Regions from separate parts of the Homo sapiens genome. Here region 2 is linked to region 1. Evidence: fine-mapped expression QTL. A gene starts in region 1. The other region holds a variant in brackets. All regions are shown on one strand. Distances are from middle to middle. Region 1 holds the start of LINC01584 (long intergenic non-protein coding RNA 1584). Region 2 has its middle 8.4 kb from the start of AGBL1.

Region 1 (4,406 bases):
CTCTGTGTCTTCAGCCTTGGACCCTTGGGGGAGGTGAGTCTGCACTCTGCCTTGGCAAGGAGTCCAGAAGGAAGAACTCAGAGGTGTCACTTCCAACTGAACTTGTGGGAGGTGGCCTGCGTCTTCTACTCTGGTCTGCTTGTGTGTGCCTGTCTGCAGAAGACATTCTCTGTTGCAGATCTAGTGGGACTCCTAGAGCGCCCTGCATTTGTGAAAAACAATAGGAACTTAGCTCCTTATGGCCCAAATGCTGACTCAATATCAATATGATGTAGATATTGTACTTCCATGATGGGAGTCCCTTTCCAAGATTTTAACCTCTAAAACAAAAAGAAGTTTGGGAGATTCCAGGAAGGGTCTTTTTTTCACCGATGTCACAATTCCATGCATATGAATCCTGTTGAAGTTGTAGGCCTTGCTGGCTTAAGGGTTCCACATAGCAGAATGTGGCCGATAAAACAACTGTATGCTAGCTGAGCTTGGTGCAAATGACAACCCACACCATGCTTGCCCACTTCAGAACTGTTTGCATGCATGGGACAATTCGTATCCTATAACGAGATGCTGAGGTCCAACGCTACAAGTCTGTTTCTCAGTGAATTCACTTGGAGCCTCGTTCTGATGAGATTCACTGTCAGAGTAGCCTGAGCTGTCAGTGAATTTGACTCTTTTGTTAGAATGTCTTTATTGAACTTCATGATAGGCTCTCATGTGAAAAGGGCTGAAAAAATTGTGGCTGCTAGTGGTGCTAACTGTTCACCACTGGGTTATGGATAAACACTGCCTGGCACCTCAAGTAAGGAAGACCTGAGGTAATATCTTGACTGCTAAAAAATAGCTACTGGGATCTCAAAATGACACAATGAGACCACTTTTGTTTTCCTAAAAATATCCCTCTTGAAGGATGTTTGAGCCATCTAGGTAGCATTGTGACATCCATCTTGCTTCCAGTCCCATGATGCAGGGGAGTACCATAAAGTCACAGTGGTGGATTGTGACTGTGAAGATGAAATTTTGACAGCAACATCCACTTTATTCTAGTCTAGACCTGCCTGGTAAAAAGCAGTACCACTAGGTTGTGCTAGAGTATAAACATAGCACGATGTGCATTTCCTGGCAAATCTTTACTTTATTGGCTATTTCTTTCTTTCTTTTTCTTAAGAAAAAAAATTATCTGTTCTCTGTAACTTAGAAGAACATATCAGAAATATCATTGTGATCACTGTTGTTTGAAAAGAAGGGCCTTTGAATGACAATATTGTGATTTTTGTAAAGGCCGGAGGTAGTGAAATGCTCAGAATTATTTATACTTACTCCCAGATACCGCTTAGTCACCTTCCAACATCTGGTGCTCTGGGATGAGGACTACTGCTCCTCTTCAGTCTTCTCATTGGTGCCTCATTTTCTGTCTGACTTGTCAGCACTGGAAAGCTCAAGGCTATCTCTCGGGTTCTCTTTCTTCTCTTCTCTGTGTACTTTCCTAGGGCATCTTCCTCAGTCACATACCATGTGTATGTTAAGGGCAATGATGCCCCAGCTATATCTCTGGTCCTGACTTTTCCATGAAACTCCAGACTCATCTCTCCAGGATGACCAAACATTTCAGCCTTCTGGGACAGCTCTGCTTTATACCTACTCTCCTGTTATAATTATTAGTAGGGCTCATTTCTCTCTCAGAAGATTTCAGTCATGTCATCCTATACATGAGGTTGGTATTTAAGTCAGATCATGTCACTTTTCCAACTAAAATTCTCTTATAGGAAGGAAAGTAAATAATTGAGAACAATAATAAAATTGACTGTATCACTAAAATAGGCAGGGAACCTAGAATTTATTGAGTGCCATTGTGCTATGTTATTTGCATTTGTTCTCTCATTTAATTTAAAATTCATCTCAACTCTGTTTTGTGAGTATTGCTCTAGGTGATTTCAGCTACAGCAAAACACAACCAACCAACCAATCGAGAACAAAAATGTAAGGCTCAGAAAGATTAAAATAACTTGCTTAGGATTACACAGCCAGTAAAGTATTAGAGCTGGGTTTGAATCTTAGTTCTCTCTAGTGCTAAAGCTGAAGGATTATGTGTTTGTTTTTTTCCAATTACTTTGTTGATGTGATGGCTAATGTGTCAGCTTGAGTGGGCTAAGGGATGCCCAGGTAGCTGGTAAAGCATTATTTCTGGCAGGGTGTTTCTGGGAGAGATGAGCATTGGTTCAGTAGGCTGAGTAGAGAAGATCCACTTTCATCATTGTGGGTGGGCATAGTCTAATCTGTTGTGGGCCCGAATACAACACAAAGACAGAGGAATGATGAACTTACTCTCTCTTCTTGAGCTGGGACATTGGACACTTACTCTCTCTTCTTGACCATCTCTTGGTTCTCTGGCCTTCACACTATGGGACTTACACAAGCAGAGCAACCCCTACCCCTGATACCTCAGGTCTTCACACTCAACTAGGAGTTACACAGTCAGCTTCCCTGGTTCTTAGAACTTTGGACTTAGACTGAATTCTATTGGGTTCTCTAGGTTGCAGATGACAGGTCATGGGACTTCTCACCTCCATAATTACATGAGCCAATTATCACAATAAATCTCTCTCACTGGTTCTGATTCTCAAGACAACCCTAATACAGTTGGTAACCAAGCATCTTTCTTCATCTGGCCTCAGAAACACCTTTCTTTTCTTTTCTTTTTTTTTTTTTTTAACATGTTTTCGTGTTACTTAGGCCAGTTGCTTAGTGATCTATCAATGGTCATCATCAAAGTCTTGTTGAAGAGTTTTCCTGTGTGATTGTATTCATTAGAATTAGATTTGGCTATGGCTCATGGGAACTAAAATCACTATTTTATTCCTTTTTACATAAAGAAATCTGGAGGTGAGTGTTCTGGGGGTCCACACTCATGGCTCTGGTTTCCCTCCATCCTGATGTGATGCATGATTACCTGCCTTGAGAACACCCCGGGCTCTGGGATGGCTGCTGGGAATCCCCGCTAAAATTGGTCTGTTACTAAGGAAAATGGGGAGAAACCGGCAGTCTGCTCTCCTGACCAACTTTTTTTTCCCTTTATTTCTCAGTATTTGAGAATTTGTTTTTCAGAAGAAGTCTGAGTGTGTAAGGAATAAAGCCTAAAATGAGGTCTATTTGGCATCTGATTGACCTACCTGTAATTTCCAATTTTCCCTGTGTGACTATTGTGTTGAGCAAGTTTTGTAACTTCTATGACCTAGATACTTTACACAATTATCTCATTTAATTCTCACTAAAGACTCCAAAGTAAGAATTATCTCTATTTCACAGATGAGGAAACCAAGGCTCAGAATGTGTTTTTAGTGCATATCAAGCAATGTATAATGTGCAATGATTAACACTTCACGTGTGCACAAGAGGTATTCAAAACTCTTCTTGACCTGTTTTAATCAAAAGTTTCCCTCCTGATCATCAAATGGGACACGTCATCCTTCATATTTTTTCTTTTTCTGGGTTTTCACAGAAAAAGTAACAACAACAACTAAGCTTAATGTAATTAGAGATGATAGAAGAACATCATGGTTTTAACAAATTCACATGCCTGAAATCCAACCCCAGGACCTGTGATTTGGTGATTTGGATTGGTGCGGGAATCTGTAGTTTAGAAAGGTTATGTGTAACTCCATTAGTGAGCTTCTGGCACAAGAAGAATAACTGTCAAGACTTGCTCTGCGGATCTTAGTTTGGTATCTTCTTGATTTGAAAAGTCTCTGCTTATTCCAGTGTTTGTGCTGTCACATTAAACTGCTATCTCTGAATTTCTTGTTACACTGACATTGTTACCGTTCTCCTGGGTGTCAATATAATGTTTCTACTCAGAAAATCTCTCTTTCAAGAGATGGCCCTCACCTTTTCCCAGGTGGACTCAGTTCCATTTTTAAAGGTGCTGCCAAGGGCTTTAAAAGCAAACTCTCATTTGAGGTGCTGGGGAGCCCTAGTTCATCTTGTCTTTCTCCCTTTGCTTCTCTCTGGAGTAAAGGCTGGCAGAGGAGAATGAGAATAAAATTATTAAAAGTCCAAATTGGCAGGTAGGATTTCAAAGAACAAAATTAATTGTATTCAAGACACGTCTCCCCTCTGTTTATGCTCACAAAATGCTGTCTTTGCAAGAACTCTGCAGCACCACGTACACTGTTGGCCCTCTGCGAATCAGCACCAATGACAACATTATAATTACACTTCAAAAAAAAAAAAGGCAATGAGAAGTTGCATCTTAAATTTCCTTTATTTGGTTGCTCTAGGAGCTTCTGTTTGAGTACAGCATTGGAGAGCAGGTGCAGAGGTTAAAAATATGCTCATAAAAATCTAGAACCCAGTGTCTTTTTGTTACATTCATAATAAATAAGAATGCTTTCCTGGAGGCTCAGCCATTAAGG
Region 2 (4,406 bases), 45 kb before region 1:
TTAAAATTGAATACTAAAAATATTTGATGAACCTAAAACAAGGCAAAAAGGAGGAGGAAAAAAACTAAAAGCAAATGAGACAAACGGGAAAACAACAGCAAAATGACAGACTCAAAACCAATCATATCAGTAATCACATTAAACACAATTGAACACTCAAGTTAAATGGCAGAGATGGTCAGACTGGATTAAAAAGTAAGACTCCACTATATTCCTTGTACAAGAAATGACTAAGTGTAAGACACAGATAAATGTAAAGTAAAGGATGCAAAAAGATGTAGCATGTAAACCATAAGCATAATAAATTTGGAGTGACTATATTAACATCAGACAGAATAGACTTTAAGACAAAAGTATTACCAAAGACATAGAGGGACATTTCATTATGATAAAAGTTTTAATTCATTAGGAGGACATAGAAATTGTAAATGTGTACTTGCCTAATAACAGAACTTTAAAATACATGAAGCCTAAACTGACAACTAAAGGGAGAGAGAGACAAATCCCATAATCATAAGACAGAAGATCTCAACAAGGCTGTCAACCACTCTCTTAGTCCATTCAGGTTGCTATAACAAAAATGCCCCATGGATTGTATAGCTTAAGTAACAAATACTTATTACTCATAGTTCTGAAGGCTGGTAGGTCCAAGATCAAGGTTTTGGGAGAGTCATTCCCTTGTGGTGGCCCTCTTCCTGGTTCATAGACAGCTATCTTTTTAATGTGTCTTTTTTAAAATTTCTTTCTTTCTTTTTTATTATACTTTAAGTTTTAGGGTACATGTGCACAACATGCAGATTAGTTACATATGTATACATGTGCCATATTGGTGTGCTGCACCCATTAACTCATCATTTAACATTAGGTATATCTCCTAATGCTATCCCTCCACCATCCCCCACCCCACAACAGTCCCCGGTGTGTGATGTTCCCCTTCCTGTGTCCATGTGTTCTCATTGTTCAATTCCCACCTATGAGTGAGAACATGTGGTGTTTGGTTTTCTGTCCTTGCGATAGTTTGCTGAGAATGATGGTTTCCAGCTTCATCCATGTCCCTACAAAGGACATGAACTCATCATTTTTTATGGCTGCATAGTATTCCATGGTGTATATGTGCCACATTTTCTTAATCCAGTCTATCGTTGTTGGACATTTGGGTTGGTTCCAGGTCTTTGCTACTGTGAATAGTGCCGCAATAAAAATATGTGTGCATGTATCTCTATAGCAGCATGATTTATAATCCTTTGGGTACATACCCTGTAATGGGATGGCTGGGTCAAATGGTATTTCTAGTTCTAGATCCCTGAGGAATTGCCACACTGACTTCCACAATGGTTGAACTAGTTTACTGTCCCACCAACAGTGTAAAAGTGTTCCTATTTCTCCATATCCTCTCCAGCTCCTGTTGCTTCCTGAGTTTTTAATGATCGCCATTCTAACTGGTGGGAGATGGTATCTCTTTGTGGTTTTGATTTGTATTTCTCTGATGGCCAGTGATGATGAGCATTTTTTCATGTGTCTGTTGGCTGCATAAATGTCTTCTTTTGGGAAGTGTCTGTTCATATCCTTCGCCCACTTTTTGATGGGGTTGTTTGTTTTTTTCTTGTAAATTTGTTTGAGTTCATTGTAGATTCTGGATATTAGCCCTTTGTCAGATGAGTAGATTGCAAAAATTTTCTCCCATTCCGTAGGTTGCCTGTTCACTCTGATGGTAGTTTCTTTTGCTGTGCAGAAGCTCTTTAGTTTAATTAGATCCCATTTGTCAATTTTGGCTTTTGTTGCTATTGCTTTTGGTGTTTTAGACATGAAGTCCTTGCCCATGCCTATGTCCTGAATGGTATTGCCTAGGTTTTCTCCTAGGGTTTTTATGATTTTAGGTCTAACATTTAAGTCTTTAATCCATCTTGAATTAATTTTTGTATAAGGTGTAAGGAAGGGATCCAGTTTCAGCTTTCTACATATGGCTAGCCAGTTTTCCCAGCACCATTTATTAAATAGGGAATCGTTTCCCCATTTCTTGTTTTTGTCAGGTTTACTGTGTCTTTATATGAAAAAGGGATGAGGGAGATAACTGGGCTGTCTTCTATAAGAGCCCTGATTCCATTCACGAAGGCTCTGCCTTCATGGCCTAATCACCTCCCAAAGGCCCCAACTCCTACTGCCATCATATTAGGGATTAAGATTTCAATGCAAATTTTGGAGGTATACAAACATCTAATCCATTGCAACTGCTTTGATATGATTGACAATTATAGTATGTTACATCCAGCAGCTCAGAACCTACATTCTTTTTTATTTACACATTTAATTTTCTTTAAGATTAACTATATGCTGGGTCAAAAATGAAGTCTCAGTAAATTTCAAATGACAGAAATCTTCCAATATTTAGAATATGTTCTTTGTCCGTAATGGAATTAAACTGAAGATTAATGAAAGGAACTCTGGTGCCATGGTTTGGAAGTTTGATCCTTCCAAATCTCATGCTCAAATTTAATCCCCAGTGTGGTAGTGTTTGGAGATGGGGCCTAGTGGGAAGTGTTGGGGTCATGGGGGTGGATCCCTCATAAATGGATCAATGCCCTCCCTGAAGCAGGAGAGTGAGTGAGTTCTCACTCTATTAGTTCCTGTGAGAGCTGGTTGTTAAAAAGAGCCTGGCACCTCCCCTATCTCTCTCTTCTTCTTTTACCACATGGTCTCTACATACACT[A/G]GCTCCCCTTTGCCTTTCACCATAAGTGGAAGCAGCCTGAAGCCCTCACCAGAAGCAAATGCTTCTTGTACAGCCTTTAGAACTATGAGCCAAATAAACCTCTTTTCTTTATACATTTCCCAGCTTCAGGCATTCCTTTAAAGCAACACTGAATGGACCAAGACATCTGGCAAAGTCCCAATATCTGCATATTTATAAAACACATGTTTAAATACCCCATGTGTCAAACATTGGAAGATGTTTTCAGCTAAATGATAATGAACACACATGAAAAGTTGTGGGACTCAGCAAAGGCAGTACATAGAGGGAAGTTTATAGCTTTATACGCTTATATTAGAAGAGAAGAAAAATTTAAGATTGGTAATCTAAATTTGTGCCTTAAGAAGTTAGAAAGATAGAAACAACTTAAATCCAGAATAAGTAGAAAGGACATAATAAAGAGCAGATATTAATGAAGTAAAGAAATCGATAAACAATAGAGACTAGTCCAGAACCAATTACCCTTCTCGTATTCTCTGATAGAAATAATTCAATTAAACTAATGAAACCATTTCTATAAACATTATAGAATTTATCAGGAAAGATGGGAGGGGGAGAAATGAAAATAAACCAAACTTGCAGCGCACTCAGCATTTACTAGCTCAGCTTATTCTCTCTGACTTGCTTCCTTATAGTTGTTTGCTGTCTGCCACCCCGGAATCATGGAAATCCTGACACAAGATTATAGTTCCCCTTAACTGCTCTGTAGATAACAACTTAATTATTGTGAAACATTAAGTTTTCCCTTTGAGATATTCTTTCTGGTCATGCATGTCAGTGAAACTACTGATGCTAGCTGGTCTGAAAGACCCCAGAAGGAACTGACTCATCAAAGAAGGCAGTTTCCACATTCTGATGATTTCTTCCCCCTTACCCAAACCAATCAATGCCCCTAATTTTCCAGCCCCTCACCCTCCATGATCCGCTTAGAAACCTCAACCCAGAACTCCTCAGGGAGACAGATTTGAGGGTCTCCTCACATCTCCTCACCCATCTGCCCTGTGATCATTCAACTCTTCTTCTGCTGCACACCTGGCTGTCTCAATGTGTTGGTCGTTTACTTCACAGCAGGCATAGGAACCTGTTGGTCCTGGAATGCTAATATGTATTTCCTCCTGGGACCAGTGATCCCTTTTGTGGTAATAATACTTTTTTGGGATTCTGGAATAACTTAAGTCTGTGTGAAAAGTTTGGAAGATTTTTAAAAAATGCTTTATTATATTTTTCTGCCAGAAAATACAATTTACATATAAACGAGCAATATGGTCCTTGATCCCATCTAAAAAGTTTGCATTTGAAAGCAAGGCTTCCATAGTTCACAAGAAACTCCTTGTGAGACCACAGCCTCACACAATCTTCTCCCTGTATGAACTCATCCTAATTATAACCCTTATCACTCCACACTAGAGGTCAAAGGGGTAGGAGGTTTGGGTGGTGGTGGTGTGTGGTTGGGTTGGGGCAGGTGAGCACTACTGAGAGAAGGAGGATAAATCAACTGCCACTGAAACCTCCCCTCACTGTTCTAGGCGTTCCCCTTTGTGTGACTTTTGTATTCTACCACTTCCCATAGGTCCTGAAGGATGTGGGCTTTGCTTCACATCAACCAGGAGGAGGAGAAAAACCTTCCAAGACAGTGAAGGAGAATAAGTTATCACCTGGA

The links. PIP is the estimated chance that this variant, and not a neighbour inherited with it, causes the effect.
Region 2: its variant is the best candidate, but not a certain one, in a credible set for the expression of LINC01584 in testis (GTEx, PIP 0.53).

What each region holds. Positions count from the first base shown.
Region 1 is chr15:86,114,262-86,118,667 of GRCh38, forward strand. LINC01584 (long intergenic non-protein coding RNA 1584) reads right to left here and starts at 2,456. Exons shown (of 6, transcript NR_120368.1): 1 at 2,354-2,456. All of the region lies in intron 1 of AGBL1 (AGBL carboxypeptidase 1), which reads left to right.
Region 2 is chr15:86,069,259-86,073,664 of GRCh38, forward strand. No RefSeq gene overlaps it. Among named protein-coding and RNA genes, the nearest start is that of AGBL1, 8.4 kb to the right of the region's middle. The variant A/G (reference allele first, on the strand shown) is at 2,708.